2 separate regions of the Homo sapiens genome follow, and region 1 is linked to region 2. Evidence: fine-mapped expression QTL. A gene starts in region 2. The other region holds a variant in brackets. All regions are shown on one strand. Distances are from middle to middle. Region 1 overlaps LINC00663 (long intergenic non-protein coding RNA 663). Region 2 holds the start of HOMER3 (homer scaffold protein 3).

What was found. PIP is the estimated chance that this variant, and not a neighbour inherited with it, causes the effect. A credible set is the group of variants that fine-mapping cannot tell apart.
Region 1: its variant is the best candidate, but not a certain one, in a credible set for the expression of HOMER3 in pancreas (GTEx, PIP 0.72).

What each region holds. Positions count from the first base shown.
Region 1 is chr19:19,754,168-19,769,330 of GRCh38, forward strand. It overlaps LINC00663 (long intergenic non-protein coding RNA 663), which reads right to left. Exons shown (of 3, transcript NR_026956.1): 2 at 8,371-8,479; 3 at 2,204-4,379. Among named protein-coding and RNA genes, the nearest start is that of LINC00663, 15 kb to the right of the region's middle. The variant G/A (reference allele first, on the strand shown) is at 8,834.
Region 2 is chr19:18,931,994-18,947,156 of GRCh38, forward strand. It overlaps HOMER3 (homer scaffold protein 3), which reads right to left and starts at 9,224. Exons shown (of 10, transcript NM_004838.4): 1 at 9,058-9,224; 2 at 6,976-7,056; 3 at 6,735-6,891; 4 at 6,360-6,491; 5 at 2,310-2,417; 6 at 931-1,052; 7 at 1-139. The coding sequence starts at 6,989. It overlaps HOMER3-AS1 (HOMER3 antisense RNA 1), which reads left to right and starts at 8,261. Exons shown (of 3, transcript NR_134913.1): 1 at 8,261-8,631; 2 at 14,088-14,235; 3 at 14,333-14,838. RefSeq lists enhancers at 1-508, 1,195-1,813 and a silencer at 9,188-9,387.

The sequences.
Region 1 (15,163 bases), 820 kb after region 2:
GGTCCACACTGACCAGGCCTCGAGAGATGAGGCCCGACTTACCAAGAACCCACTGACCAGAGAGACCTCCACTGACTGGGCCCAACTGACAAGGGCCCCACCGACAGGGACCAACTAACAGGGTTCCAACTGACCATGTTTTTACTGACCAGACTTTACTGACCAGGCCCCACAGCTCAGTATCCAGTGACCAGACCCTCACTGACTAGGTCTCACTGTAAGGCCTCAAGTGACCAGGCCTCACTATCCAGGACACACTCATGAGGCTTCTACTGCCAGGCCCCCACTGATTGGGCCCAACTGAGGAGGCCCTCACTGACCAGGTCCTTAACTGATGAGATTCCAACTGACCAGGTCCTTAGTGACCAGACCTTTACTGACCAGCCCCTACTAACCAGGACCCCACTGAACAGGTCCTCACTGACAAGATCCCAGTTGATCATGTCCCCAGTGTCCAGGTTTCACTGACTAGGCCCCACCAACCTGGTCCCCTGACAAGCCTCCAACTGACCAGGTCTCCACTGACTGGGACCCAACTTACGAGGCCCATTAGCCAGGCCTCACTGACCAGGACTCCACTGACTGGGCCCCATCTGATGAGGTTCTGATTGACCAGGTCCTTAATGACCAGGCCTTTACTGACCAGGCCCCACTACCCATGAGCCCAGTGACCAGACCCTCACTGACCAGGTTCCACGGCCAGGCCTCCAGTGACCAGGCCTCACTATCCAGAACCCACGGATGAGGCTTTTGCTGCCAGGCTGACTGCGCCCAACTGACAAGATTCCAACTGACCACTTCCTTCACTGATGAGGTCCCAACTGACCATGTCCTTAACTGACAAGGTTCCACCTGCCCAGGTCCCAACTGACCAGGTCCTTAACTGATGAAGTTCTGACTGGCCAGGTCTTTAATAACCAGACCTTTACTGACCCATTAACCGGGACCCCAATGACCCAGAACTTTACTGACCAGGCCCCACTAGCCAGGACCCCAATGATCAGGCCCCACTGACCAGGCCTCAATTGATGAGGCCTCAACTTACCAGGACCCCAGACCACCACTGACTAGACCCCACTAGCCAGGACCCCCTGATGAGGCCTCCACTTCTAGGCCGCCACTGACTGGGCTATACTCACAAAACCCCCAATCAGACCTCCAGTGACCAGTCCTCACTGTCCAGGACCCACGGATGAGGCTTCCACTGCCAGGCCTCCACTGACTGGGCCCAACTGACAAGGCCCCCTCTGTCAACGTCTCCACTGACTGGGCCTTAAATGACGAGGTTCTGACTGACCAGGTCCTTACTGAACAGACCTTTACTGACCAGGCCCCACTAATGAGGACTCCAAAGACCAGGCCCCCACAGACAAGACCACAGTTGATTATGCTCCTGGTGGCCACGTTTCGCTGACTAGGCCCCACTGACAAGTCCCTCACTCCCTAGGTCCCCATTGACCAGGCCCCAAATGATGAGGCCTCAGCTTACTAGGACCCCACTGACCAGACCTCCACTGAGTAGGCCCCACTAGCCAGGCCCCACTGATAGGCCCCCCAATTCCAGACCCCACTGACCAGGTCCCTCCACTGACTGATGAGGTTCCCACTGACCAGGTCCTTAATGATCAGACCTTTACTGGCTAGGCCCCACTACCCAGGACCCCAGTAGCCAGGTCCCCACTGACCAGGTCCCTACTGAACAGACCTCCACTGACTGGGCCCCCATTGCCAGATTTCCACTGACCGGGCCTCATTGACCAGGTTTCCACTGACCAGGACCCCAATAACCAGGTCACACTCACCAGGCCCCCACTGACCACATTTCAGCTGACCAGGCCCATGCTGACCAGGACACACTGGTGTAGCCCCAAGTGACCAGGCCCTCTGACCAGTCCTCTCTGACCAGGTCCCCGCAGACCGGGTCCTCACTGACCAGGCACCTGCTCACCAGGCTTCCTCTGACTAGGTCTCCAATGATTGTGTCCCCATTGACCAGGCCCCCACTGACCAGGTGCTATTGACCAGGCTGCTGCTGACCAGGTCAGCACTGACCAGACCCCCACTCACAAGGACCTATTCGCCAGGCCCTGCTGACCAGGTCCCACATGACTCCACTGAATAGGTTCCACTGATGTGGCCCCAATAACTCAGCTATATTAGTGTGTTCTTGCATTGCCATAAAAAAACACCTGAGACTGGGAAATTTATAAAGAAAAGAGGTTTAATTGGCTCATGGTTCTAAAGGCTGTACAGGAAGCATGATGCTGGTATCTATTCGGCTTCTGGAGAGGCCTTAGGAAACTTTCAATGATGGTGGAAGGTGAAAGCGTAGCAGGCACGTCTTTGCTTTTTTTTTTTTTTTTTTTTGAGATGGAGTCTCGCTCTTTCGCCCAGGCGGAAGTGCAGTGGCGCGATCTTGGCTCACCGCAAGCTCCGCCTCCCAGGTTCACGCCATTCTCCTGCCTCAGCCTCCCGAGTAGCTGGGACTACAGGCGCCCGCCACCGTGCCTGGCTAATTTTTTGTATTTTTAGTAGAGACGGGGTTTCACCGTGTTAGCCACGATGGTCTCGATCTCCTGACCTCGTGATCCGCCCACCTCAGCCTCCCAAAGTGCTGGGATTACAGGCGTGAGCCACCGCGCCCGGCCACAGGCATGTCTTACGTGGCTGGAGCAGGAGGAAGTGTGGGGGGAGGTGCCACACACTTTTAAACAACCAGATGTCATGCAAACTCTCTCACAAGAACAGCGCTAAGGGGATAGTGCTAAACCATTAATGAGAAACCGCCCCATGATCCAATCACTTTCCACCAGGTCCTACCTCCAACACTGGGGATTCCAATTCAACATGAGATTTGGGCGGGGACACAGATTCAAACCATATTGTTCCACCTCTGGTCTCTCCCAAATCTCATGTCCTTCTCATATTTCAAAATACTACCGGCTGCGTGCAGTGGTTCACGCCTGTAATCCCAGCACTTTGGGTGGCCGAGGCAGGCAGATCAGAAGGTCAGGAGATCGAGACCATCCTGGCCAACAAGGTGAAACCTCATCTCTACAAAAATACAAAAAATTAGCCAGGCATGGTGATGGAGGCCTGTAGTCCCAGCTACTGGGGAGGCTGAGGCAGGGGAATCATCTGAACCCAGGAGGCAGAGATTGCAGTGAGCTGCGATCGCACCACTGCACTCCAGCCTGGTGACAGAGGGAGACTCTGTCTCAAAAAACAAACAAACAAACAAACAAACAAACAAACAAACAAACTACCATGCCTTCTCAACAGTCCTGCAAATATTTAACTCATTCCAGCATTAACTCAAAAGTCCACAGTCCAAAGTCTTATCTGAGACAAGGCTAGTCCCTTCTGCCTATGACCCTGTAAAATAAGAAACAAGTTTGTTACTTCCAAGATACAATGGGGGTATAGGCATTGGATCAACATTCCCATTCTAAAAGGAAGAAATTGGCCAAAAGAAAGGGGCTACAAGCCTACACAAGTCCAAAACCAAGCAGAGCAGTCATTAAATCTTAAAGCTCCAAAATAACTTCCTTTGACCTCCTATCCCACATCAAGGGCGTGCTGGTACAAGGGGTGGGCTCCCAAAGCCTTGGGCAGCACCACACTTGTGGCTTTCCAGGGTTTAGCACCTGTAGATGCTCTCAAGGGCTGGCCTTGAGTACTTGTAGCTTTTTCAGGCTGAGAGTGCAAGCTGCCAGTGGATCTACCATTATGATGTCAGGAGGACAGTGGTTCTCTTCTCATAGCTCCACTAGGAAGTCCTCCAGTGGGACTCTGTGTGGGGGCTCCAACCCCACATTTCCCCTCCACACTGCCCTGGTAGAGATTCTCCATGAGGGTTCCACTCGTGCAGCAGGCTTCTGCGTGGACATCCAGACTTTTCCATGAATCTTCCTAAATCTAGGTGAAGGTTTCCAAGCTTCAACTCTTGCACTTTGCACTGCAATGGTAGTGCAGGTCCACTGAACCATCAAAGACCAGGTACATGCCTCTGCCTGGTGTTCTCAACTCATCCACCAGTGTGGAGCTGTCATCCCACTTTTCATTACGGTCATCATCGCTGCCCTGGCTGGCCTGGCTGCCACCAGAATTGCTGAGGTGATGACTGCAGGTTCCCCAGTCCCCGGCTCTGGAAAGCCTGCACTGGCAGCTGGAAGGCCCCTGGTGGTGGCACTTGTTGTGGCTGCAGCAGCAGCTAGAGGGCTTTGGGAGGCAGCTTCGAGGAGGTGGGTACCATGGTGAGAAGGGCCTTGAAGCCTCTGGGTGACACATTGCCCTAGCAGGCTGGGGCACCAGGGCTGCTGTCACTCACCAGGCCTGGCCTAGGGGCAATGGAGTGAGGCCTTGTCTCTAAGAAGCATCTGCATGACAGAAAACATTTCTATACTATACGTCTGATAATGCATTAATATCACAAATGTATAAAAACTCAAACAGTCCAACAGCAAGAAAACAAATACTATAAAATATTAGCAAAGGACTTGATATAGACATTTCTCAAAGAAGACATGCATATGAGCAAAAAGTACATGAACAAAAGCCCAAGTTCAATAATCATCAGAGAAATGCAAATTAAAACCAGAATGAGATGTCACCTCACATCTGTTAGAATAGCTATTTCAAAAAGTTTGAAGTGCACTGAGTCTGGATCTTTAGTATCTTTATTTCACTACTTCTTCTAATGTAAGGATTTGGTTTGTTAGTCTTTGATGTGTCTTTTTTTTTGAGATGGAGTCTCACTCTGTTGCCCAGGCTGGAGTGCAGTGGCGCGATCTTGGCTCACTGCAACCTCCAACTCCTGGGTTCAAGCGATTCTCCTGCCTCAACCTCCCGAGTAGCTAGGACTACAGACACGCACCACCACGCCCAGCTAACTTTTGTATTTTTACTAGAGATGGGGTTTCACCATGCTGGCCAGGATGGTCTGAATCTCTTGACCTCATGATCTGCCCACCTTGGCCTCCCAAAGTGTTGGGATTACAGGTGTGAGCCACCACGCCCGGCCTCAATGTGTCTTTTTATGGTTTTCAGTAAAGTTTTATGGTTTCACATAGGCCTGGGAATGTCTTCTAAGTCGATTTCATGGCACGTTTGCTAATGTGGATGGAGGCTGACTCTTTGTTATTGTTACTGTATGTTTATTATTAGTATGAAAGATTCAAGATTTATTATATATACAATGTGCATTTGCTCAATTTCCTGAATGTTGTTAAACAGTTTTTGTTCTGAAAGTTGAAATCGATTACCCTGCTTTTCTATTTGTACTCATGGCCTCTGTGGATAACTACAGTTCAAATTCTTTGACTTACATTCTTTCCTGTTTCCTCCTCTTCTCTCTTCTGGTCCAGACTCAGGCATCCCTCACAGTGATAAATGGGAGAGGCCTTGCCGGCCCTTGTCTTAGACTTTTCTTTATTGAAACACTTCTGATGTTTGCTGTTGATTATGATGTTTGCACAAATATCTTTGCTTAATAAGAATTTTATTTTTGCCTTTTCCCTTCCTTCCCTCCCTTCCTTCCTTCCTTCCTTCCTTCCTTCCTTCCTTCCTTCCTTCCTTCCTTTCAAAGCATGATCTCTGATGTTTCTTAGGCTGGAGTGCAGTAGCTAGTCACAGATGGAATCATAGCTCACTGCAGCCTCAAACTCCTGGGCTCAAGCAATTCTCTCACCTCAGCCTCCTGAGTAGCTGGAACTGCAGTCATGTGCCACCATTCCCAGCCAGAAGTTTCTATTATCCTATTTGGTATTCTTAATCATCACATATTTTATTCAAGGATATACTAAAGTGATTACATATTTTTTCTACTGTAGTCTTTTGATCAAATAAAGAACCTAAATAATTTATTTTTTGAGACAGAGTCTTGCTCTGTCACCCAGGCCGCAGTGCAGTGGTGCCATCACAGCTCACTGCAACCTCTGCCTCCTGGGTTCAAGCAATTATCCTGCCTTAGCCTCCTGAGTAGCTGGGACTACAGGCGTGTGCCACCACACCTTGCTAATTTTTGTCTTTTTAGTAGAGACGGGGTTTCACCATGTTGGTCAGGTTGGTCTCAAACTCCCGACCTCAGGTGATCTGCCCACCTTGGCCTCCCAAAGCATTGGGATTATAGGCGTGAGCCACTGTGCCCAGCCTTGATTTTATTTTTAATAGTAAAATGTACTTGAATAGTTTTTGGCGTAATCTGGTAGTAGAAATACACAAGATATCACCATTAGATACTGCTAATCAAACACTTAAAAGGTGCAAGTATCCAGGTGATTTTGTATACAATCTGGGTCTTTTTGTCAGACTAACGAGTATAATGAGATTTGATATTTGCTTCTGATGTTGCTGGACAAACTGGGTAAAGAAAAGGATTAAGTCAGGGATTCCAAGTTTTTAATACAAGTACTGCATTAATATCCTAAAAATTTATATGTAGCCCTGAAGAAGATACTTAACTCCTGCAGCTTCAGGGCTCAAAATGCTGAAAAGAAATCATAGCATCTCATCCCATAACTGGCTGAATTACAACAAAAATTAAATTCCCAGGCTTGCAGGATGCCTACTTTTAAAGTGGGGGTATTCATTCAGAAAACATTGGATATTAAAAAGTTAAAATGAGGGCCAGGTGCGGTGGCTCACACCTGTAATCCCAGCATTTTGGGAGGCTGAGGTGGGAGGATCACCTGAGGTTGGGAGTTCGAGACCAGCCTGGCCAACATGGAGAAACCCCTTCTCTACTAAAAATACAAAATTAGCTGGGTGTAGTGGTGCATGTCTGTAATCCCAGCTACTCAGGAGGCTGAGGCAGGAGAATCACTTGAAGCCGGGAGGTGGAGGTTTCGGTGAGCCGAGATCGCACCATTGCACTCCAGCCCCTGGGCAACAAGAGTGAAACTCTGTCTCAAAAAAAAAAAAAAAAGAAAAAAGAAAAGAAAGAATGAAATGCTGGATCTTCATTGGTTTGCTATAAAGTGATTCAAAAGCTTTGAAAGATTTGAATGATAAAGTGTATTTTTCCTTTAAAACATACTCAACTGAGGAAGATCCAGGAGATACACCATTCATCATAACTGTGAGACATACATTTGTGAGAGGAGTCCCAGTATCTCCAAAGAGCTTGATCACCACACTTCTCTGTAGGACAGAACTTACAATGAAGATTGTTGCCACCGAAATGAAAAATCTAAATGCATTGGTTATAACCGGATCTCGGGACTGCAGGATTTAAGTGGCAGCACTCAACTGCAGCTGTGAAAAAAATGGTGGGAATGGTTATTTAACAGACTGCAAAGTCAAAGCAAGCAATAAGAATAGTTTGACTCATGGGCTTCCTAGAATTAGAATAGAGGGCGCAGTGGCTCATGCCTGTAATCCCAGCACTTTGGGAGGCCGAGGCGGGAGGATCACCTGAGTTCAGGAGTTTGAGACCAGCCTGACCAACATTGAGAAACCCCATCTCTACTAAAAATACAAAATTAGCTGGGTGTGGTGGCGCATGCCTGTAATCCCAGCTACTCAGGAGGCTGAGGCAGGAGAATCGCTTGAACCCGGAAGGCAGAGGTTGCGGTGAGCTGAGATTGCACTGAGCTGAGATCATACCATTGCACTCCAGCCTGGGCAATAAGAGCGAATCTCTGTCTCAAAAAAAAAAAAAAAAAAAGAATTAGAATAGACAGGAAGACTACTAAGTTTTTACTTGATCTATATAAGTAGAAAAGTTCAAGTCAAACAAAGCCAAACCTGAATTATGAAACAAAAAACAAAACCAAAGATTTATGGCTTCTCAATTTTTTTTTTTTTTGAGATGGAGTGTCACTCTGTCACCCAGGCTGGAGTGCAGTGGCGCAACCTCGGCTCAATGCAACCTCCACCTCCTGGGTTCAAACACTTCTCCTGCCTTGGCCTCCCGAGTAGCTGGGATTACAGGTGCGTGCCACCACGCTGGCTACTTTTTGTATTTTTTTTAGTAGAGATGGGGTTTCACCATGTTGGTCAGTCTGGTCTTGAACTCCTGACCTTGTGATCCACCTGCCTCGGCCTCCCAAAGTGCTGGGATTACAGGTGTGAGCCACCACACCTGGCTTGGCTTCTCAATTAATTTCCAGTCTCGAATTAGTTTATAGACCCAGAACTCCTTGAATCAATGAGATGCTGGGTCCCTATGAGGAAGAAATCCAGTATACTATTACAAATATATACTGTTAATTTGTCCCCCTCTTTTCCCCAAAGAAAACTATGGCCTTTTACCGGAGAACCTTTGCATTGGGAAAAAAGAAATAATCAGACCTTTGAGGAATTACTGAATACAGTTTCTGAACTGATACTAATTCCAGGAGAACTGAAATGACATTGCAGGGCATTTACCAGAGTAGGAGCTTATGGAGGTCAGGCGATCAATGGAGTTTTGAATCAATTCTAATTCCCAGTTGGCCTGGTGGGTTTCTCAAACCACCCTTCGGTTATCTTCCCCGTTCTGGAATACATAATTAGATTAGACATACTCAGCAACTGGTAGAATGCCAAACTGGTTCCCTGACCAGTGGAGCGAGAGCTATTTTGGTAAAAAAAGGTCAAGATGAAGTCATCAGAACTGCGTATTCCTAGGAAAAAGTCAACCAAAAGCAACAGCACATTCGTACAGGGATTTCAGAGACTGAGGCCACCAGGAAGGTCTTAAAAGATCCAAGGGTAGGCTGGGAGAGGTGGCACTTTGGGAGTGCTGAGTTCAGATTTGGGAGCCCGCCGAGGTGGGCGGATCATGAGGTCAGGAGTTGGAGACCAACATGGTGAAACCCCACCTCTACTAAAAATACAAAAAAAGTTAGCC[G/A]GGCGTGGTGGCATGCACCTATAATCCCAGCTACTCGGGAGGCTGAGGTAGGTGAATCGCTTGAACCCAGGAGGCAGAGGTTGCAGCGAGCTGAGATCGTGCCACTGCACTCCAGCCTGGGTGACAGAGCTAGACTTGGTCTCAAAAAAAAAAAAAAAAGGAACCATCCAAGGGTCATGGCTCTCATTTCATCCTATGTAAGTCACTGAATAAACATAAGAGATCTTGGAGAATTATACTGGATAAACGTAAGCTTAAATCATATGGAGACTCCCATTGCAGTTGTTGTACCAGATGTTGTTTTATTACTTGAGCAAATATACACATCCCTGGTACCTAGTGTACAGCTATTCATCTGCCTAATACTTTTTTTTCTCTATCATTGTTAATAAATACCACCAGAAGCAGTTCGCTTTCAGGTGGCAAAGACAGAAACACACCGTCACTGTCCTACCTCACACACTAGTAATTGGCTCGGGCTTCTGTAACAGCATGCCGACTGAGTGACTTAATCAATGTATTTTCTTCTCACAGTTGCAGAAGGTAGAAGTTATAATCAAGATCATCAGAACTGGCATCTGGTGAGATCTCTCTCCTTGGGTTGTAAGTGACCACCTTCTCTATGTCCTTCCATGGACTTTCCTCTGTGCTTTTGTGGTAAGGGAGATCTCTAATGTCTCTTTCTCTTCTTATAATGACTTTTTTTTTTATAGAACCCTAGCCTTATAACCTCATTTAACCTTTTTTTGTTTGTTTGTTTGTTTTGTTTTGTTTTGAGACAGAGTCTCGCTCTTGTTGCCCAGGCTGGAGTGCAACGGCACAATCTCGGCTCACTGCAACCTCCACCTCCTGGGTTCAAGTGATTCTCCTGCCTCAGCCTCCCTAGTGGCTGGGATTACAGGCGCCCGCCACCACGCCTGGCTAATTTTTTTTATTTTTCATAGAGATGGGGTTTCACTATATTGGCCAGGCTGGTCTCGAACTCCTGACCTCAGGTGATCCACCCGCCTCAGCCTCCCAAAGTGCTGGGATTACAGGCGTGAGCCACCGCGCCCGGCTCTCATTTAATCTTAATTACCTCCGTAAAGGCCTATCTCCAATTACAGTCACATTGAGGGTTAGAGCTTCAACATATATATTTTAGAGGGACATAGTTCAGTCAATAATAGTGATATATCAACTCTTCAGCCTTATGTTACAGCTTAGTTTGCTGGGATCTTGGTCACCTTTTCCTTCCACAAACTATCACACTGGTTCTTTACATTGATGGTATTATGCTCATTGAATATAGTGAGCAAGAAACTCACTAGACTTATTGGTATGAGAAGCTCACTCTAGACTTACTGGTATGAAATTTATGTCAGGATGTAGGACATTAATCCAACAAAATTTCAGAAGCCTTCTATCTTTGTGAGATTTATAGGGTCCCAATGGTTTGGGACATGCCAACGTATCCCCTGGAAGCAGAGGAGTAAGTTGTTATATTTGGCTTCTACTACAACAAAAAAGAGGCACAACTCTAGTGGGCCTTTTGATTTTGAAGGTAACATATTTCTCATTTGGTAAGTTACTCTGGCCCATTTACCCTGTGACCCAAAAAGCTGCTAGCTTTTCTTTACTCAGCAGAAAAGAATATTCTACATCAGATCCAGGCTGTCGTGTCACTTGGGTCATGTCTTCCAATAGAGTCAAAGGTGCTGAAATTGTTGATGGCAGATACAGATGATCTTTGGAGCTTCTGGAAAGCTCCTGTGTTAATCACAGGAAAGATTTTGGAGGAAAATCATGCCATCCTATGTAGATAATTGCTCTTTTTCTTTTCTTTTCCCTTCTCCCCTCCCCTCCCCTTCCTTCCTTTCTTTTCTTTTTTTCTTTCTTTTTTTTTTTTGAAACAGCTTTTGGCCTGTTCCTGGGGCACAGAAAATACACTGGAAAAATTTATATTGTTAAAATGTCCATGCTGGCCAGGCATGGTGGCTCATGCTTATAACCCCAGCAGTTTGGGAGGCCAAGGCAGGTGGATTGCTTGAGCTCAGGAGTTCAAGACCAGCCTGGGCAACATGGTGAAACCTTGTCTCTACAGAAAATACAAAAATTAGCCCGGCATAGTTTTGCATGCCTGTGATTCCAGCTACTTGGAGGCTGAGGTGAGAGGATTGATTTAGCCCAGGAGGTTGAAGCTGCAGTGAGCCATGATTGTGCCACTGCACTTCAGCCTGGGTGATACAGCAAGACCCTGTCTCAAAATAAAATAATAAAATAAAATAAAATAAAATAAAAGTCCATGCTTCCCAAAGTGATATAGAAAGTAAATGCAAGCCCTATCCAAACCCCAATGGCATTTATTATTAAACTAGACAAAAATAATTACAGATTTACTTGGAACCAAAAGAGACCTTAAACAGTCAAAGCAGTATTGAGCAAGATGAACAAAGCTGACGATATTATACTCTCTGATTTCAAAACATTAGAAAGCAATGCCATCAAAACAAGATAGTACTGGCATAAAAACAGACATAAAGAACAATGGAACAGAATGGAGAGTCCCAGAATAAATCTAATATATGCATACAATCAACTGATCTTCAACAAGGGTGCCAAAAATACACAACAGAGAAATGAGAGTCTTTTAAGTAAATAGTGCTGGAAAAATTGGATCTCTATATGCAAAAGGATAAATGTGGACTCTTACTTCATACCATATTAAAAATTAACTTAAAATGGATTAAATATTTAAACATAAGACCTGAAAACATAAAATGGCTAGAAAAAAAATATGGAAAAATTTTCAGAACTTTGGACATTGAGATGCTTTTTTTTAAATTAGACTTCAAAAGAACAGGCAACAGGCCGGGTGTGGTGGCTCACACCTATAATCCCAGCATTTTGGGAGGCTGAGGCAGGCGGATCACCTGAGGTCAGGAGTTGGAGACCAGTCTGGCCAACATGGCAAAACCCCATCTCTACTAAATCTATTTTAAAGATTATTTGGGTGTGGTGGTGCACTCCTGTAGTTCTGGCTACTCAGGAGGCTGAGGCAGAACTGCTTGAACCTGGGAGGCAGAGGTTGCAGTGAGCCAAAATTGCATCACTGCACTCTAGCCTGGGCAACAGAATGAGACCCTGTCTCAAAAAAACAAAATAGTAAGACAAAGAACAGGCAATAAAATCAGGACAGACAAGTGGGACTACCTCGAATAGAAAAACTTCTGAACAAAGGACAAATTCAACAAATGAAAAGGCAACTTAAGGAATGAGAAAAAAATAGTTGCCAATAATATATCTGATAAAGGGTTAATATCCAAAAATACAAGGAATTTCTACAACTCAATAGCAAACCCCAAATAACAAGATTAATAAATGAGTAATGACCTAAATAAACATTTCTCCAAAGAAGACATAAGAATGGCCACAGGTATATTTTAAAAAATGCTCCGTGTCATTAAATGTCAGTCAAATGCAAATTTAAGTCACAGTGAGGCATCACCTCACTCTTGTGAGGACAGGTATATTAAAAACAAACAAGCGTGCTAAAGTTATGAAGATACTGGAACTTTTGTACACAGCTGGCAGGAATTAAAATTGGCAGCAACAATGGAAAACAACATACAGTTGTCTCAAAAAGTTAAAAACAGAATTATAGGTCGGGTGTGGTGGCTCATGCCTGTAATCCCAGCACTTTGGGAGGCCGAGGTGGGAGGATCACTTGAGGTCAGGAGTTCAAAACCAGCCTGGCCAACATGGTGAAACCCTGTCTCTACTAAAAATACAAAAAAAAAGTAGCTGTGAGTGGTGGTGCGCACCTGTAATCCCAGCTACTCGGGAGGCTGAGACAGGAGAATTGCTTGAACCCGGGAGGCAGAGGTTGCAGTGAGCTGAGATCGCACCACTGCACTAAAGCCTGAGTGACAGAGTGAGACTCCGTCTCGAAAAAAAAAAAAATTACAGTTTGATTCATTAAACTCAATTCTGGGGATACATCCAAAGGGAATATAATTTGGATCTTGAAGAGCTACATAGTTCTGTGTCTATTACAGCATTATTCACAATAGCCAAGATATGGAAGCCACCTAAATGTCCATGAAGGATACATGAATGTGTCAAGTAAAGGTAGTATATACATGCAATAGAATATTAGCCTTAAAAAGGGAGTAAATCTTTTCTTTTCTTTTTTTTTTGAGATGGAGTCTCTGTCACCCAGGCTGGAGTGCAGTGGCGCGATCCTGGCTTACTGCAACCTCTGCCTCCTGGGTTCACACCATTCTCCTGCCTCAGCCTCCCGAGTAGCTGGGACTACAGGCGCCCACCACCATGCCTGGCTAATCTTTTGTATTTTTAGTAGAGACGGGGTTTCACCGTGTTAGCCAGAATGGTCTCGATCTCCCAAACTCAGCTGATCAGCCTGCCTCGGCCTCCCAAAGTGCTGGGATTACAGGCGTGAGCCACCGCGCCCGGCCAGTAAATCTTTTCATTTGTGACAACATGAATGTACCTGAAGGATACTAAGGTACACATTAAGGCACGATTGAAAGAAGCCAGACATAGAAAGACAAATACATCATGATCTCACATACATGTGAAATATGAAGTAATTATACGTGTAGAGGCAGAGAGTAGAATGGTGTTTTCCAGAAGCTGAGCTGAAAGAAAAACGGGGGTTGGGGGGATACAAAGTTTCAGTTACCCAAAATGAACAAACTGGTCTGGATAGTGGTTTTTTTTTTTTTTTTTTTTAGTAAAACCATAAAAGCTCAGGCAACGAAAACAAAAACAAATGGGGTTATATCAACCCAAAATGCTTCTGCATAGCAAAAAAAAAAAAAAAAAAAAAAAAAAAATTAACAAGGTAAAGAGAAAAGCTACAGAATGGCAGAAAGTATTTTCAAAATACCCACCCAATAAGGTATTAATAACCAGAATATACAAAGAACTCAAATGACTTAATAGCAAAAAACAAACAAAAAAAGAATCTAAATTTAAAATGGGAAAGGATCTAACCAGATACTTCTCAGCCAGGTGCAGTGGCTCACGCCTATAATCCCAACACTCTGGGAAGCTGAGGCGGGTGGATCACTGGAGCTCAGGAGGTCAAGACCAGCCTGGGCATCATTTTTTGTAGAGGTGAAATACCACCTCTACAAAAAATTCGCTGGGTATGGTGGTGCACACCTATAGTCCCAGCAACTTGGGAGTCTGGGATGGGAGGATGGCTTGAGCCTGGGGAGGTTGAGGCTGCAGTGAGCTGTGATTATGCCACTGCACTCTAGCGTTGGTGACAGAGAGACACTGTCTCAAAAAAACCCCAAAAAACAAAAAGCAAACCCAACAACAGACTCCTGTCTTCAGCCAAAAAGACCAGGAAAGACACCTTATCAAACAAAACTTTTATCCAATGTGCCTTCTATGCTGGGATAAAATGAGGGTAGATACAATAGGCTTTCTTTCCCTTTTGTGTTTTATAAATTGTATTTGAATATCAAGGAACAATTGAAACATTGTTAACTACGATAATTTCTGAATATAATGTAATACGTTGATCTAACACTAAAAAAGCTATACTCAAAAACACTACAAATAAATGAAATTTTAAAACATGTTCAAATTATCTACATGAAGAAAGTAAAAATCACACAGAGGAACAAAACAGAGAGAACAAACAGAAAACAACGTATCAGGCTAGTTTTAACAAAATTAACTTAACTGTTAAATGTTCTGAATTAACCAAGTAGATCTCCGCTGACACACAACAAAAACATGCTGGCCAAAGTGGATGAGGTGAAGTTCACAATCAACACCCAAATGAAGAAGGTGCTATGTCTGGCTGTGGCTGTCAGCCACGTGAAGATGACAGACGATGTTACACACAGACGATGTGTGTAACATTCACCTGGCTGTAAACTTCCTGATGTCACTGCTCACGGAAAACCGGCAGAATGTCCGGCCCTTATATAACAAGAGCACCACCGGCAAGCCCTAGCACCTGTATTAAGGCACATTTGAATAAATTCTACTGCCACCAGTCAAAAATAAATAAATAAAATAAAATAATCAATTAGAGACAAAGATTGAAAACATTGATTTTTTTTTTTTTTTTGAGACGGAATCTCCTCTGTCGCCCAGGCTGGAGTGCAGTGGCGAGATCTTGGCTTACTGCAAGCTCCGCCTCCCAGGTTCACGCCATTCTCCTGCCTCAGCCTCCCGAGTAGCTGGCACTACAGGTGCCCGCCACCACGCCCGGCTATTTTTTATGTATTTTTAGTAGAGACGGGGTTTCACCGTGTTAGCCAGGATGGTCTCGATCTTCTGACTTCGTGATCCGCACGCCTCAGC
Region 2 (15,163 bases):
GGCCTCTGCACGCTGAGCCTCCAGCTGCTGCCTCCACTGGGCTGCGGCGGCGTTGGCCTCTCGCAGGGCGCCTGCCAGCTTGTTGTTGCTGTCCTGCAGTGCGAAAAACTCGGCCTCCCACTGTACCTCGCCCACGGAGCTGCAGAGACACGAGGGTCGGCAGTGGGTGACACGGGGCTGGGGGGCGGAGTCGGGCGATGCTGGGCTAGGGGGCGGGGCCAGGGGTGGGATAGCTCTGGGCTTAGGTCAGGGCGAAGGCTGGCGAGGGTGCGGAGTCGTGCGCGAAGTTGGACTAGGGGGCGGGGCAGGGGTGGAGTGGCACTGGGCTGGGGGCGGAGTCAGCGGCAATGCTCGGTTAGGGGGCGGGGCCAGGGTGGGTGGCGCTGGGCTGAGGCGGAGTCACGGGCGATGCTGGGCTAGGGGGCGGGGCCAGAGGAGGGGTGGCTTTGGGCTAGGGCACGGAGTCAGGGCCACGCAGGGCTGGGGATGTGGCGACACTGATTGCTGAGCTTGGGGATGGGGCAGTCCCGCAGAAGCGGGGTCTTGTCGAGGACCGAGTCAAAGAAGGGGGCACGTGGAGTCCGCCCAGTGACACTGTGGGAATGTTGAGGGAGGGATGGGAGGTTGGGGAGAGTCAGCCGATGGGGGCGTGGTCAGGGTGGTTATCCTAAGACCAGAGAGGCATCGACGGGGCGAGGTTAGCAGCGAGAAGAGACAGGGATGGGGTCAAAACAGAGGGGCGTGGCCAACGCAGGGTAGGGGCGGGGTCGGCTCTGGATGGGGCAGCATTCAGATCCTCATCCCCTTCCCCAGGTCTTGAGTCCACAGTTAGATCCCGCCGTCCTGGCACTCCCTTGGCTTCCAAGAACCGCCTCCTCGTCCCCCACCCCTACCCCCGCCCCTGCCACGCCCCCAAGTCCCGCCCCTCACCCCTCAGACAACATCTTCTTTAGCCGCTCGCGCTCTGTGGGGCCGGGGGCATCAGCGCTCTGGCTGCGGAACAGTTTTTCCTCGCCGGGGCCGTTGGCACTGACGAGAGGGCTCGGGGGCACCTAGGCACGGGGAAAAGAATAGGTCACGACCCCACATCAGCTGGGATCAAGGCTGATGTGACTGGGGTCGTCACATCGGGGGTGCAATTGACCTATGCACCCTAAGCAGGTCCTTCACAGCACAGGATCCAAGTGTGTCCCTCCCCACCTCACCCACCCTCCATGGCTCCCTGTGGCCCCTAAGCTGGGAGTTCCATGCCCACGCCCTCGACCTTGCCTTCCTGGGCTTTCACCACCCCCAGGAGCAAGTCTGATGCAGGTTAGTCTAAACCAAGATACTTAGAACCTGTAAGGTAGGGGAGGGGTACAATCGGACACCTCCCTGCTGTTCCCTTCCCTGAGGCCGAACTTCAACATCACGTTTAGGATTTCAGCAGGAAGCCCTGCCCAGGCCGAATTCGTGTTTCGTGAGCAACCCCACTGCCTGGACCACTGGCTCTGAGGGTAGACAAGCTGGCGGGTGCCCTGCGAGAGGCCAGCGCCACCGCAGCCCAGTGCAGGCAGCAGCTGGAGGCTCATGCTTTTTTTCATCTCTCCAACCCCTGTGCACAGCCCTCGGCCTGGTACACAGCAGGTGCTCAATAAATAATGCTGAATAAATTAATGTGGGAAAACACGCAGGGACAGTTCGTTGTTCTGCCTCACACTTAGCCATTTCTTTCTTTCTTTTTTTTTTTGAGACAGAGTCACACTCTGTCACCCAGGCTGGAGTGCAGTGGCACGATCTCGGCTCACTGCAACCTCCATCTCCTGGGTTCAAGCGATTCTCCTGCCTCAGCCTCCCGAGTAGCTGGGACTACAGGCGCATGCCACCACGCCTGGCTAATTTTTGTATTTTTTAGCAGAGGTGGAGTATCACCATGTTGGCCAGGCTGGTCTCGAACTCTTGGCCTCAAGTCATCCTCCCTCCTCAGCCTCCCAAATTGCTGGGATTACAGGCGTGAGCCACCGCACCCGGCCACACTTAGCCATTTCAATTTCTAGTCTTCCATCCTGCCATCTGAGCTGGTTTTGCTACTGGGACCTACTGGGTGTACCCCACCGGCCCCAGGCAAGGTCCAGACCCTCTATGACACACTCCACACCACTCCTCTGTGGTCCCTGCTGTGGGTCTAACCTTAGGTCATCTGGAAGCATTGGGTCTTGACGACCAGCAGAGTGCCCCGGTCTCCCAATATCAAGGTCCCCCAATATCAGTTGAGCGCCTGGCTGACTCACAGGTGCCCAGGCAGGCATAGGGGAGTAGGGAGTGCTGACCTGGTGGGAGGCGAGCCCCAGGGCTGGACTGGTGAGCTCCCCGCCATCCTGAGATTTCTCCCTGGCCAGCCTGGCTGCTTCCTTCACTTCCTGGAACTTCTCGGCAAACTAAGGGAGTGGGGAGGAAAAGACAGTAAAACCCCAGCCCATCCTCCCAAACAGGTCACCATCACTCAGTGACAGCCCCGCCACTTTCGAACCGTACCCATCCCCTTATCACACACCTTGGAAGAAGGAGAGAAACTTTGAAAAATGATGTACCATGGTGGGTGGGCAGGTGGCATCAGATCACAGAGGTGGCATTTAAATACATTGGGCCACATTGAGAAAGGGAAAGGAATTCCCATGTCCTCTTTTTAGGAAAGGGTCTCACTTTGTCACCCAGGCTGCAGTACAGTGGCATGATCTCGGCTCACTGCAGCCTTGACCTCCCTGGCTCAAGTGACCCTTCCACCTTACCCCTCCACCAAGGAGCTGGGACTACAGGTGTGTGCCATCATGCCCGGCTAATTTTTTCTAGAGACGGGGTCTAGCCATGTTCCCCAGAATGGCCCTTTTCCTGTTTTTTGTTTTTTTTTTTTTTGAGATGGAGTCTTGCTCTGTTGCCCAGGCTGGAGTGCAGTGACATGATCTTGGCTCACGGCAGCCTCTGCTTCAGCCTCATGAGTAGCTGGGATTACAGGCATGCACCAGCATGCCTGGCTAATTTTCATATTTTTAGTAGAGATGTGGTTTTACCATGTTGGCCAGGCTGATCTTAAATTCCCGGCTTGAAGTGATCCGCCTGCCTCAGCCTCCCAAAGTGGTGGGATTACAGGCACAGCACCCAGCCTTTTTTTTTTTTTTTTTTGGGGGGGGACAGAATCTCGCTTTGTCACCCTGGCTGGAGTGCAGTGGCACCATCTCAGCTCACTGCAACCTCTGCCTCCCAGGTTCAAGCGAGTCTTCTGCCTCAACCTCCCGAGTAGCTAGGACTACAGGCCCGTGCCACCACGCCCAGCTAATTTTTGTATTTAGTACAGATGGGGTTTCACCATATTGGCCATGCTGGTCTCGAACTCCTGACCCCGTGATCCACCCACCTCGGCCTCCCAAAGTGTGAGAATGACAGGTATGAGCCAACATGTGGGGTCCCTTTTAATCTTTATCAGGGCTATTTCAACAAAGAGAGCCTCAGGTGGGTGCTAATCTGTCTTTAACACCTGTTATTATTCCTTTATAACAAAGAGATTAGGTCTCAGGCTCTGAGAGACATCAGAAGTCAATGAGAAAGTAATCATCTCATTCTTGTTTTTGTTGTATTAAATGTTTACATGTTTACATTTACCACCTATTTATGACAAAGCAATACCAGTTTTCCAGTTAGGATAGGATATGTTTCCCCCCACCACCCCGGTTTTAAAATAAATTTCCTTAGTTTAAAAATAATTTTTTAGGCCGGGTGCGGTGGCTCACACCTGTAATCCCAGCACTTTGGGAGACCAAGGCGGGCGGATCATTTGAGGTCAGGAGTTCGAAACCAGCCTGGCCAACATGGTGAAACCCCATCTCTACTAAAAACACAAAAATTAGCCAGGCATGGTGGTGGGCGCCTGTAATCCTAGTACTTGGGAGGCTGAGGCAGGAGAATTGCTTGAGCCCAGGAGGTGGAGGTTGCAGTGAGCTGAGATTGTGCCATTGCACTCCAGCCTGGGTGACAGAGCAAAACTCTGTCTCAAAATAAATAGATAAGGCCATGTGTGGTGGCTCACGCTTGTAATCCCAGCACTTTGGGAGGCCGAGGCAGGTGGATCATGAGGTCAGGAGTTCAAGAGCAGGCTGACCAACATGGTGAAACCCCATGTCTACTAAAAATACAAAATCAGCCAGGCATGGTGGCACATGACTGTAATCCCAGCTACTTGGGAGGCTGAGGAAGGAGAATTGCTTGAACCGGGGAGGCGGAAGTTGCGGTGAGCCGAGATCGCACCATTGCACTCCAGCCTGGGGGACAAGAGTGAAACTCTGTCTCAAAAAAATAAATAAATAAATAAATAAATAAATGATTTTTTAGGCTGGGTGCAGTGGCTCACACCTGTAATCCCATCACTTTGGGAGCCTGAGGCAGGCGGATTACCTGAAGTCAGGAGTTTGAGACCAGCCTGGCCAACATAGTGAAACCCTGTCTCTGCTAAGAATACAAAAATTAAAAAAACAAAAATTTTGTAAAAATACAAAAATTAGCCAGGTGTGGTGTGTCTGTAATCCCAACTACTTGGGAAGCTGAGGCAGGAGAATTGCTTGAACCTGGAGAGAAGAGGTTGCAGTGAGCCGAGATCGGGCCACTGCACTCCAGCCTGGCAACAGAGCTAGACTCTGTCTCCAAAAAAAAAAAAAAGACCTAAATTAGAAAGGTAAATTGTTGGGGCCGGGCGCGGTGGCTCACACCTGTAATCCCAGCACTTTGGGAGGCCAAGGTGGGTGGATCACGAGGTCAGGAGATCGAGACCATCCTGGCTAACACGGTGAAACCCCCGTCTCTATTAAAAATACAAAAAAAATTAGCAGGGCGTGGTGGCAGGCGCCTGTAGTCCCAGCTACTAGGGAGGCTGAGGCAGAAGAATCAGAAGAATGGTGTGAACCTGGGAGGCAGAGCTTGCAGTGAGCCAAGATCGCGCCACTGCACTCCAGCCTGTGCGACAGAGCGAGACTCCGTCTCAAAAAAAAAAAAAAAAGTAAATTGTCTGGGTGCAGTGGCTCAAGCCTGTAATCCCAGCACTTTAGGAGGCCAAAGTGAGAGGCTCGCTTGAGGCCAGGAGTCAAGAACAGCCTGGACAACATAGTGAGATCCTATCTCTAAAAAAAATAAGATTAAAGATATTAGCTAGGCATGGTGGCATACGCCTATAGTCTCAGCTAGTCAGGAGGCTGAGGTGGGAGGATCCCTTGTGCCCAGGAGTTTGAGGCTGCAGTGAGCCATGATTGCACTGCTTCACTCCAGCCTGGACAGCAGAGCAAGATCTTGTTAAAAAAAAAAAAAAAAAGAAGGGAGGGAGGGAGGGAAAAAAAAAGAAGAAAGGTAAATTCTAAACCTTCTAGAAGAAAACAAAGAAAGCCTGGTGTGGTAGCTCATGCCTGTAATCCCAGCACTTTGGGAGGCCGAGGCAGGTGGATCATCTGAGGTCAGGAGTTCAAGACCACCCTGGCCAACAAAATCCCATCTCCACTAAAAATACAAAAATTAGCTGGGCGAGGTGGTGGGCACCTGTAATCCCAGCTACTCCAGAGGCTGAGGCAGGAGAATCGCTTGAACCCGGGAGGTGGAGGTTGCAGTGAGCCGAGATCGTGCCACTGCACTCCAGCCTGGGGGACAGAGCAAGGCATTATCTCCAAAAAAAAAAAAAAAAAAAGAAGAAGATCTTCGTGAAAGCACTCATCATCAACAAAACCACGGATAAAGATAATAATGGAAGTATAGAGACGGCACAGGGTGCAGGGAGGTGAGGATGAAGGTATTGCTGGGGCATGTGGGAAAGTGCCCAGCCCAGCCCAGCCACCCATTTGATGTCCCAAAGAGGAGCAGGGTGTGTCCAAAATTAGAGCTACAGGCAGTAGAACTAGGACTCAAGAGCAGGTACAGTGGCTCATGCCTGTAATTGCAGCACTTTGGGAGGCCGAGGCAGGCAGATCATTTCAGGTCAGGAGTTCGAGACCAGCCTGGCCAACATGGTGAAACCCTGTCTCTAATAAAATACAAAAAATTAGCTGGGCGTGGTGGCGGACTCCTGTAGTCCCAGCTACTCAGGAGGCTGAGGCAGGAGAATCGCTTGAACCCGGGAGGCGGAGGTTGCGTGAGCCAAGATCACTGCAGCCTATCTCAAAAAAAAAACAGAAAAATGAACTAGGAATCAAACCGGGGAAGCTTAAAGGGGCTTCAGTCTCAACTCATCCTACAATCCCATCCTGCAGATGGGAAGATAGGGGACCTGCCCAAGATCCCAGAGTGAGCCCAGGAGAAGACTTGGGCCCAGTCTCATCGGTTCCCTCCACTCTCCCCCTCACCCGGCCCACCTGTGTCAGATGCTGTTCAGAGGCAAAGCCCAGGCCGTAGACTGTGTTGGCGCGACTGTCGGCCCACTGCCCGAACTTCTGGGAAGTTTTGGTGAAGGTCATGTTGGGAGTGACAGTGCTGTTGATGATGGCCTAGGGTCGGGGAACAAAGTTCAAGGTAGATGGGACAGATACTAACAAACATGAAACCCCCCAGGTATTACCTTGTATTAGGGTCTTGAAGGTCTTTACTCTGAACCCTTTCAGGAGATAGAGACTAGGGCCTGGGAAGGCTTAGGGTTTCCTGTCCCTTGGGCACACAGCAAGCCAGCCACCAGACCCAAGGTTGTCACCAGGACTCCTGGTGCCTCTGCCCCACCCAGACCCCACCCTGACCTTGGCGCCTCCGATGCTGATGATGCGGTACACATTGCGGGTGGCATCGTAGAAATAGGAGACAGTGAGTGCGTGCTTGCCCGCTGGGATCCAGTTTCGCTTGGTGGCTGGGTCAATTTGGAACACGTGCGCCCGTGTGCTGAAGATTGGCTGCTCCCTGCGTGGGGAGAGGGTGTTTGGTGGGGGCCAGGCACCCCCACTTAGAAAGCTCAGGGCCAGGCTGGGGGAGGTGGGAGCTCACCTGGCTGTGGACATTGGTCAGGCTGGGATGGGCAGGCTCTAGGGGGCAGCCAGAGAGGTGGCAGGAGCACTGGTTTGGCCCCTAGGGAGAGAGGAGGGACTATGAGTGTCCCTCAGGCCAGGCTGAGGGAGGCCAAGCAGGTTCCATCTCAGGACCCATCACCAGGTGTGCCCGTCATGGAACTTTCAATCAAAAAGGCAGGAGAGGCCCAAAGTACACCTGGTGCTTTGGGAGGCTGAGTCAGGAGGATCCTTTGAGCCCAGGAGTTCGAGACCATCCTGAGCAACATGGCGAGACCCCATCTCTACCAAAAATTTAAACAATTAGCTGGGTGTGGTGGCATGTGCCTGCCGTCCCAGCTACTGGGGAGGCTGAGGTGGGAGGATCACTTGAGCCCAGGAGGTCAAGGCTGCAGTGCAGTGAGCTATGGTCAGGCCACTGCACTCCAGCCTGGACAAGAGAGTGAGACCCTGTCTCAAAAAAGAAAGAAATTATAAAAAGAAACAAAAAGGTAAGATAATTATTATAGATAACTCAGAGCAAGCAGACCCCATCTTTCTTTGTCTAGGGGAAGCCCCCACAACACCCTGTACAGGAGATGGCCCTCTGAGAGGAGCCTGGTGGCCGCTGACATCCAGATGTAAATTTCTCATTGTCCTGGTTATTGCACCCCCGTGAAGTCCCCTCCATCCCAGGCTGAGCTGTGGAGGCCAAATCTCTGCTGAGTTCTTTCCACCACATTCACCCATGACTGGCCAGAGCGGGGCTCTCCACCAAAAAATGGGGCGTTGAGAGGTGTGTAGTACCAGGAGACCAGTTCCCCACTACACCCTGCAGAGGGACCCCACCCCCAGCAGCTCCCACCCTAGGGCAGAAGCACACCTTGAAGTCCAGAGTCCAAATCCCCAGGGAGCCCCCAGCCAAGTTAAAAAGACAAGATGTAGACAAACAGCCAATCCCAATGCCCACCATGAGGGCAGAGCAGAATCCACACTGGGAGACCAGGGCTCCCCAACCTCCCCATTGGGCCATTCAGCAACCCCGAATCTGCAGGGGACCAAGGAGGAGTTTGGAGGAGGGGGAAGACAGGTGGGGGAGGGGAGGCCCTGGCCCAGCGGCCTCTGTGGTCAAAGGGGGGATGCCCCCCCTATCCTGTCCTGGGCAGCTGCTGTCCTGGTCACAGGGTCTGAAACCGGAGCCCCTGAGTGGGGGTGGGGCGGCAGCTCTGGCCTGGACTGGGGGCGGGTCCTGCGCCGGGTGGGAGTTGGGGAACACAGGGGTCCCCGGAACCCAGGCCCTTCCGGTCCGGCAGCTCCTGCTGCGACTTGCAGCGTTTGGGGAAAGTTACTCACCAACTAGTCATGCGCCTCGGATGCCGCCGGCCACGGGGCTCCCGGAGGGGGGTCCGACACCGCCCGGTGCCCGGGATCCCCAATCTGGCCGGTGGATGAGGCCCCATCCCATGCACCCGAGTGCGGGGGACGGGGGGGTTAATATTAATTCAGGATCCCATCCCCACCCGAGGCAGGACACCCAGTGCACGCCCCAACTCCGGGACGCGGGCTCTGACCCTGGAACTTCCGAGATTCCCGCGACGCCCCCTGTCTCTGGGTCCAGAACTTCGGGGGACACCTCTTCTGCCTCCTCCAACCCCAGGTCGGTAACTCCGGGGACTCCCTTCGTGACTCCTCCTCTAACTGGGTCCGGGACCCCGGTCCTCCGCGTTGTCCTAGACTCCTAAACTTCGAGGACCCCCTGCCACCCCTCCAGTCCCTGGGTCCGGGACGTCCGGACCCCTCCCACCCCAGTACCCCACCCCAGGTCCGCAGCTTTGGGGACCTCTTCGCAGCCTCCTCCAACGCCGGGTCCAGAACTTTGGGAACCTCCCACGCAGTCCCCTCTCAGACCCTGAATCCAGAACTTCGGGACCCCCGCGCTCCCTCCAGCCCTGGAACTTGGGGACCCCTCGCGCCGCTCCCAGTCCCGGGTCCGAAACTTCTGGGGAACCCCCACGCCCTCCCCTTGGCCCTGGGACTTCGAGGCCCCCGCGCTCCCAGCGCAGGCTCGGCAGGCCGGGCTCACCCTGCCAGGTCGGCGCCCCGCGAGTGTCCAGGCGCGAGTCGGGTGCGGCCCCCGCGGCGCTGACTCCGCGCTGCCGGGCGCCCCGCTCGCTCCCTGGCTCCCGGGCCCGCGCCCTCCGCGCCGCCCTCCACGCCGCCCGTGCCTTTGTCTGCGCCGCCGCCGCCCGCGCCGCCTCCGGTCCCATCGCGGCCGGTCCCGACGCGGCCGCCGCCCGCCCCGCCTCCCCGGGCCGCCAAGGCCGCCCCGCTGCGCCCCCTGCCGGCTTTTTGCACTGGGAGAGGGTATGGGGGAGGGGATAAGGGGGAGGGGCGGGGGCCGGGACTGGGGAAGGGACGGAGGATTGAGGGAGGGGGTTAGGGGCGGTGGAGGGGGAGTGGGGGGGGGGGTTGCGTGGGGTCGGGTTGGGAGCAGAGGGTGGGGACAGAGAGACAGACGGAGAGGGACATCTGGGATGAGAAAGAGACCCAGAAACAGAGACACGGGGGAGACAGGCGGAGAGATAGGAAGCAGATGGAGAGAGTTGCACGGACAGCGATGTGACCTCACCCTCCTGTCACCTTCTCAGGAGACAGCTGCCTCTGTCCCCACTACCTGAGGTCATAACTTTGGGCCTGTGAGGGAGGTCAGGTCCCTCCCGGGCTGACATGGGTGGCCCAGTGAGGTTGGGGAGGGGGCAGTGGGTCTCAGGGTCTGCATACAGTAAGTGCTCAATGGGTGTTGCCAGGAAACGGAAGAGATCAACTTCGGGAGGGAACGGGAAGCAAGACAAAGAGAGAGAAGCCTCTGTTCCCCTGCCCGTCCCATCCCTAAGCAGGGACGTCTGTCCACCTCTGTCCCTCCCAAGACGATGGTAAAAATGCCCACAATGGTTGGATTAAGGTTATCTTTGCTGTTGTTTGAGGGTTCCAAAATCCAAAGGCTGAGGAAATGTCTCCAACGCATGGTTGCATCCCCTCAGCCTCCACTGGCCTGCGTTTGTCACCTCTGGTCACAGGGAGCACCCCCTTCCCACACTTGCCAGGAGAGCATCCTTCCGGAGTTGAACTAGGATCCACCTCCCCAGCCCCAAGCCCATGTGTCCCACTTGTCAATCCTGGTGCCGCCCCCTCTCTGGCACCGTCTCCAAAATCACACGGTGCGGCGCCGTTGGTTCGTTTGTGGACAGAGGTCCTGCAGCTCCCTGGAACCAAGGCCTGTGGCGCCCTAAAGCTCTGATCTTACATTTGAGTTTTTCTTTTCTTTTCTTTTCTTTTTTTTGAGACAAAGTCTCACTCTGTTGCCCAGGCTGGAGTGCAGTGGCACAATCTCGGCTTACTGCAGCCTCTGCCTCCCAGATTCAAGCAATTCTCCTGCCTCAGCCTCCCGAGTAGTTGGGACTACAGGTGCATGCCACCACACCTGGCTGATTTTTGTATTTTTAGTAGAGATGGGGTTTCACCATGTTGGCCAGTCTGGTCTCGAACTCCTGACCTCAAGTGATCTGCCCCCCTCGGCTTCCCAAAGTCCTGGGATTACAGACGTGAGCCACCACACCTGGCCGACACTTGAGTGTTTTGACAACTTCAGAGAGGCTTTTGCTTTTCATCTCCAAGACCTCTGCTCCTGTCTCCTTTCCCTGTTCCTTTATTTCTGTTTCCTTCTAAGAAGAATAGTATATCTGAGCTGGCGGTTACATTACATTCAAATTACCTTTAGGTGAATTCCAGGTCAGGTTGTTTTTGGAGATTGACTCCTGCGCCAAGATCTGAGTCTTCCCCCATCCAGGCCTTTGCCCAAACTGTTCCTTCCACCTGGAATGCCCTCGCTGCAGGCATCTCTTCTGCCTTGTCCTTCCAGGCTCAGCGCCACCACCCTGTCTCCTCCTCCAGGAAGCCTCTCTGACTACCCTGGCCTTGGAAGGGATCTTGCCCTCCCCTGTCCCAATCCCTGTGACTCTTTTTTTTTTCTTTTTTAAAGTTTATTTTTAGAGACGAGGTCTCACTATGTTGCCCAGGCTGGTCTCAAACTCCTAAGCTCAAGTGATCCTCCCACCTCGGCCTCCCAAAGTGCTGGGATGACAGGTGTGAGCCCAGACCCTTTCTGTGACTCTTATGTTACCTGTTTATTACATGACCAGGTCTGGGTGCTCCTCTAGGGCTGGCCCATCCATCCTGAAGCCCCAGTCTGACCCAGCACAAGAGCGACTGTTCATCCCACAGGGGAAACTGAGGCACAGACTCGGTTTCCCTGGCTGCTTCTAACTTCACGAGGCATCTGCACAAGGGAAGGATTTGGCTCTGTTCTCAGGCCGGAAGCCACGAAATGCTTGAACATTGTGGGGAGCAAAGAAAATACCGTCTGTTCTGTGCAAAAAATGACTTTTCCTTATTACCAACAAAATAATGGAAAAAATAAAAAAGTATCTGGGAAAGGTGCTGGCATGGCCAAGGCTTCTGGAAGCTGCTTAGAGTTTGCCAAGTGCACAAGTGGGGCCCTGTGGCTATTTTACAGGGGCGGCTGGGCGAGGGGCCCAGGCAGACTTTGCCCTTTGTGTGGGCAGAAAGCAACAGTGAAAGAGACAGTGAAGGGTTGAGTTGCTTTCCTGAACACCCTCTCCGGTCTCTGGGAGGGGCTGGGACAGGGCTGGCCTTGAGCAGCCCCAACCTGAAGCTGGACTAGCCAAGTCTACACTGAGGCACTGGCTTCCTCAGTGTGGGCCTCAGTTTTCTCACCTGGAAAATGGGCCGATGCTTGCAGGGCTTCTAGTAGAGGGAGAAACATGAAGGATTTAGTCAATATCAGCAGCTGTCCTCTGGGGTGCCTGCCATTAGGTTCGTGGGCAAAGGCCCTGCCACTCTTTGCTGCAGCTGGGAAAACAGAGTCTGTGTCTCAGTTTCCCTGCTGGGATGAATAGTCACTCTTATGCTGGGTCAGACTGAGGCTTCAGGATGGATGGGCCAGCCCTAGAGGAGCACCTAGACCTGGTCATATAATAAACAGGTAACATAAGAGTCACAGAAAGGGGCTGGGCTCATGCCTGTCATCCCAGCACTTTGAGAGGCCGAGGCTGGAGGATCGCTTGAGCTCAGGAGTTCGAGACCAGCCTGGGCAACATAGTGAGACCTCGTCTCTAACGAGGGCTGCCCTGAGCTGCTGCCCCCACCCCAGTCTGGGCCCTCTTCTTCCTAGGTCTGGAGGCCTCTCTTCTAAAGAACTGGGCTGGGTGCAGTGGCTCATGCCTGTAATCCTAGCACTTTGAGAGGCTGAGGCAGGCAGATCACCTGAGGTCAGGAGTTTGGGACCAGCCTGGTCAAAACATGGTGAAACCCCGTCTCTACTGAAAATACAAAAATTAGCCGGACGTGATGGTGCACACCTGTAATCCCAGCTACTCGGGAGGCTGAGGCAGGAGAATTGCTTGAACTCAGGAGGCAGAGGTTGCAGTGAACTGAGATCAGGTGACTGTACTCCAGCCTGGGTGACAGAAGGAGACTCTGTCTCAAAAACAAAAACAAAAAAGGGTGGGGGGGAGGGAGGAAGGAAGGAAGGAACAGACTTGAGATGTCCTTGCAGGGCAGGCAGAGGCCACCCCAAGGTGTCTGACTAGGAAAGCAACTTTCCTTTGGGGCTGAAAAATGGTGTGGGAGAATGAGCTTCCCACCTTAAAGGGGAAACCAAGCGGGAGCCTGAACAGCTCATTCAGCACTAAGAAAACTGCATTTGCAGAATGGCTTTTATGGCTCAGGCTCTGGTCTCTGCCTAGTTAGATCTGACCTAGCCTTTGGAGTGAGGCTAAACAGTCTCTCCTCTCCAGAGACTTTCTGTGCCACCAGAGCAGGGACAGTCCACCTGCTCTTCCCGAAAGCTGGGTGCCCACCTCCCAGTGAAGGTCTTGGTGACTACTTCAGGTCTGTTTATTGTTTATGGCATGATTTGGTTACTGTTCACCTCTTACATGGATTTGTCCCTGCACCTAGAACAAGCCTGACCTGTGACAGCTTTCTTTTTTTTTGGAGATGGAGTCTCACTCTGTCGCCAGGCTGGAGTGCAGTGGCACAATCTCGGCTCACTGCAACCTTCAATTCCTGGGTTCAAGCTATTCTTCTGCCTCAGCCTCCCGAGTAGCTGGGATTACAGGCACTCGCCACCACACCCAGCTAATTTTTGTATTTTTTTTTTTAGTAGAGACAGGATTTCACCATGTTGGCCAGGATGGTCTCAATCTCCTGACTTCGTGATCCGCCCGCCTTGGCCTCCCAAAGTGCTGGGATTACAGACGTGAGCCACCGCCCTTGGCCCCTGTGACAGCTTTCTATGAGCACTTTCAGGAGTAGGAGATCCCCAGGTTCCAGCTTTCGACTTGGCTTTCGGAATCACGTGAGCCAGGGAGTGAATCCCAGCCCTGCTGCTTACCAGCAGTGCCACCCTGAAGAAGTCACTTTCCCTTCTTTGTGCCTCAGGTTCCCCATCCATAAAATGGGCATACGAATGGTGTTCACTTCTGAGGTTTACTGTAGGGATCCAATGAGTTCTTTCTTTTTCTTTTCTTTTTTTCTTTTGAGACAGAATCTTGCTCTGTCACCCAGGCTGGAGTGCAGTGGCGCAATCTCGGCTTGCTGCAATCTCTGCCTTCCAGGTTCAAGCAATTCTTCTGCCTCGGCCTCCCTAGTAGCTGGGATTACAGGCGCACGCCACCACAGCCGGCTAAATTTTTGTGTTTTTAGTAGAGACAGGGGTTTCACCATGTTGGCCAGGCTGGTCTCCAACTCCTGGACTCAAGTGATCCACCCGCCTTGGCCTCCCAAACTATTGGGATTACAGATGTGAGCCACCACGCCCACCCTTTTTCTTTCTTTTCTTTTCTTTTCTTTTTTTTTTTTTTTTGAGACAGGGCCTCACTCTGTTGCCCAGGCTGTAGTGCAGTGGCTCAATCATGGCTCACTGCAGCCTCAACTTTCTGGGTTCAAGCAATCCTTCCACCTCAGACTCCTGAGTGGCTGAGACTACAGGTGCACACCACTACGCCTGGCTAATTTTTGTATTTTTTGTAGAGATGGGGTGTCACTATGTTGCCCAGGCTGGTCTCCAACTCCTGGACTCAAGAGATCTGCCTGCCTCAGCCTCTCAAAGGGCTGGGATAACAGATGTAAGCCACTGCATCTGGCCTCCAATGAGTTGTTATGTGAAGAGAACGTGATTGTAGGTGCTTAATAAATGCTTGCTGTTATAAACATCATATTTATTTTTGGTATGTGGTTTTGATCCTGAACCAACCTCTTACTCTTTTCTTTTTCAGAAGTTAGAGGACTCCAACCAGGCCTGAACTCTCAAGGACAGAAATGGGTCCAACCTGGCATGACATCCTCTAAATCTTTAGCTCCTGGCCTCTCAGGTGCCCCCTCCAGCTACCTCCCTCTTCCTTCTCTTCATTCCCCAAGCCATAGCTGGTTGGGCCAACCTCCAGACATTAGCCTCTTTGCAAACTCCTATTCATCCCTCAAAGCCTCACCTTCAATGCTCTCCTCCCCAAGAAGCTCTCTCCTCTACCTCTAGACCTTTTCCAGCCCTCTTCCCTCTTTCTGGCCCAGCCCTGACTCCTGGGAGTGTCTGTGTGCAGCTTTGACTCCCCCAGCCTGAGTGTCTCTCAAGGGCTGAGACCAGGGCCCATGTTTCCCTAGAGTTTGTCATCTTCCAGCATAGTGTGGACGCATGGGGGTCAGGCAAAGGGGGAGTTTGATGACTCAGTACTATTGGTGATTTTGCATCACTTGAAGGAGACCCTGCCTTAAATTCAGAACTTGACTTCTGCCCACGGCTAAAGTTAATTCATTCAACAACCCCCCATGAAGCAATGGAGCCAGGCTCCCTCAGGCCCAGGCAAGAAAGGGTCGTGGAGTTGGGGTCGCCAGCACTGGTTTATGGATTTGAGGACCTAGGACCAGAGTGAGTTGGGGATGGGAGGAGGCAGTGCTTGAGGCCCCTCTGAGCAGCAAACCTGGACCCGAGGTTCAGTTCCCGCAGACCTAATTACCCTAATTTGCCACATGCACTAATTACCTCCTGGGTGCCAGGTGGCTGGGCGGGGCTGCCCCAATTTCCGGAGGTAGGTCGGGGCCCGATTATTTTT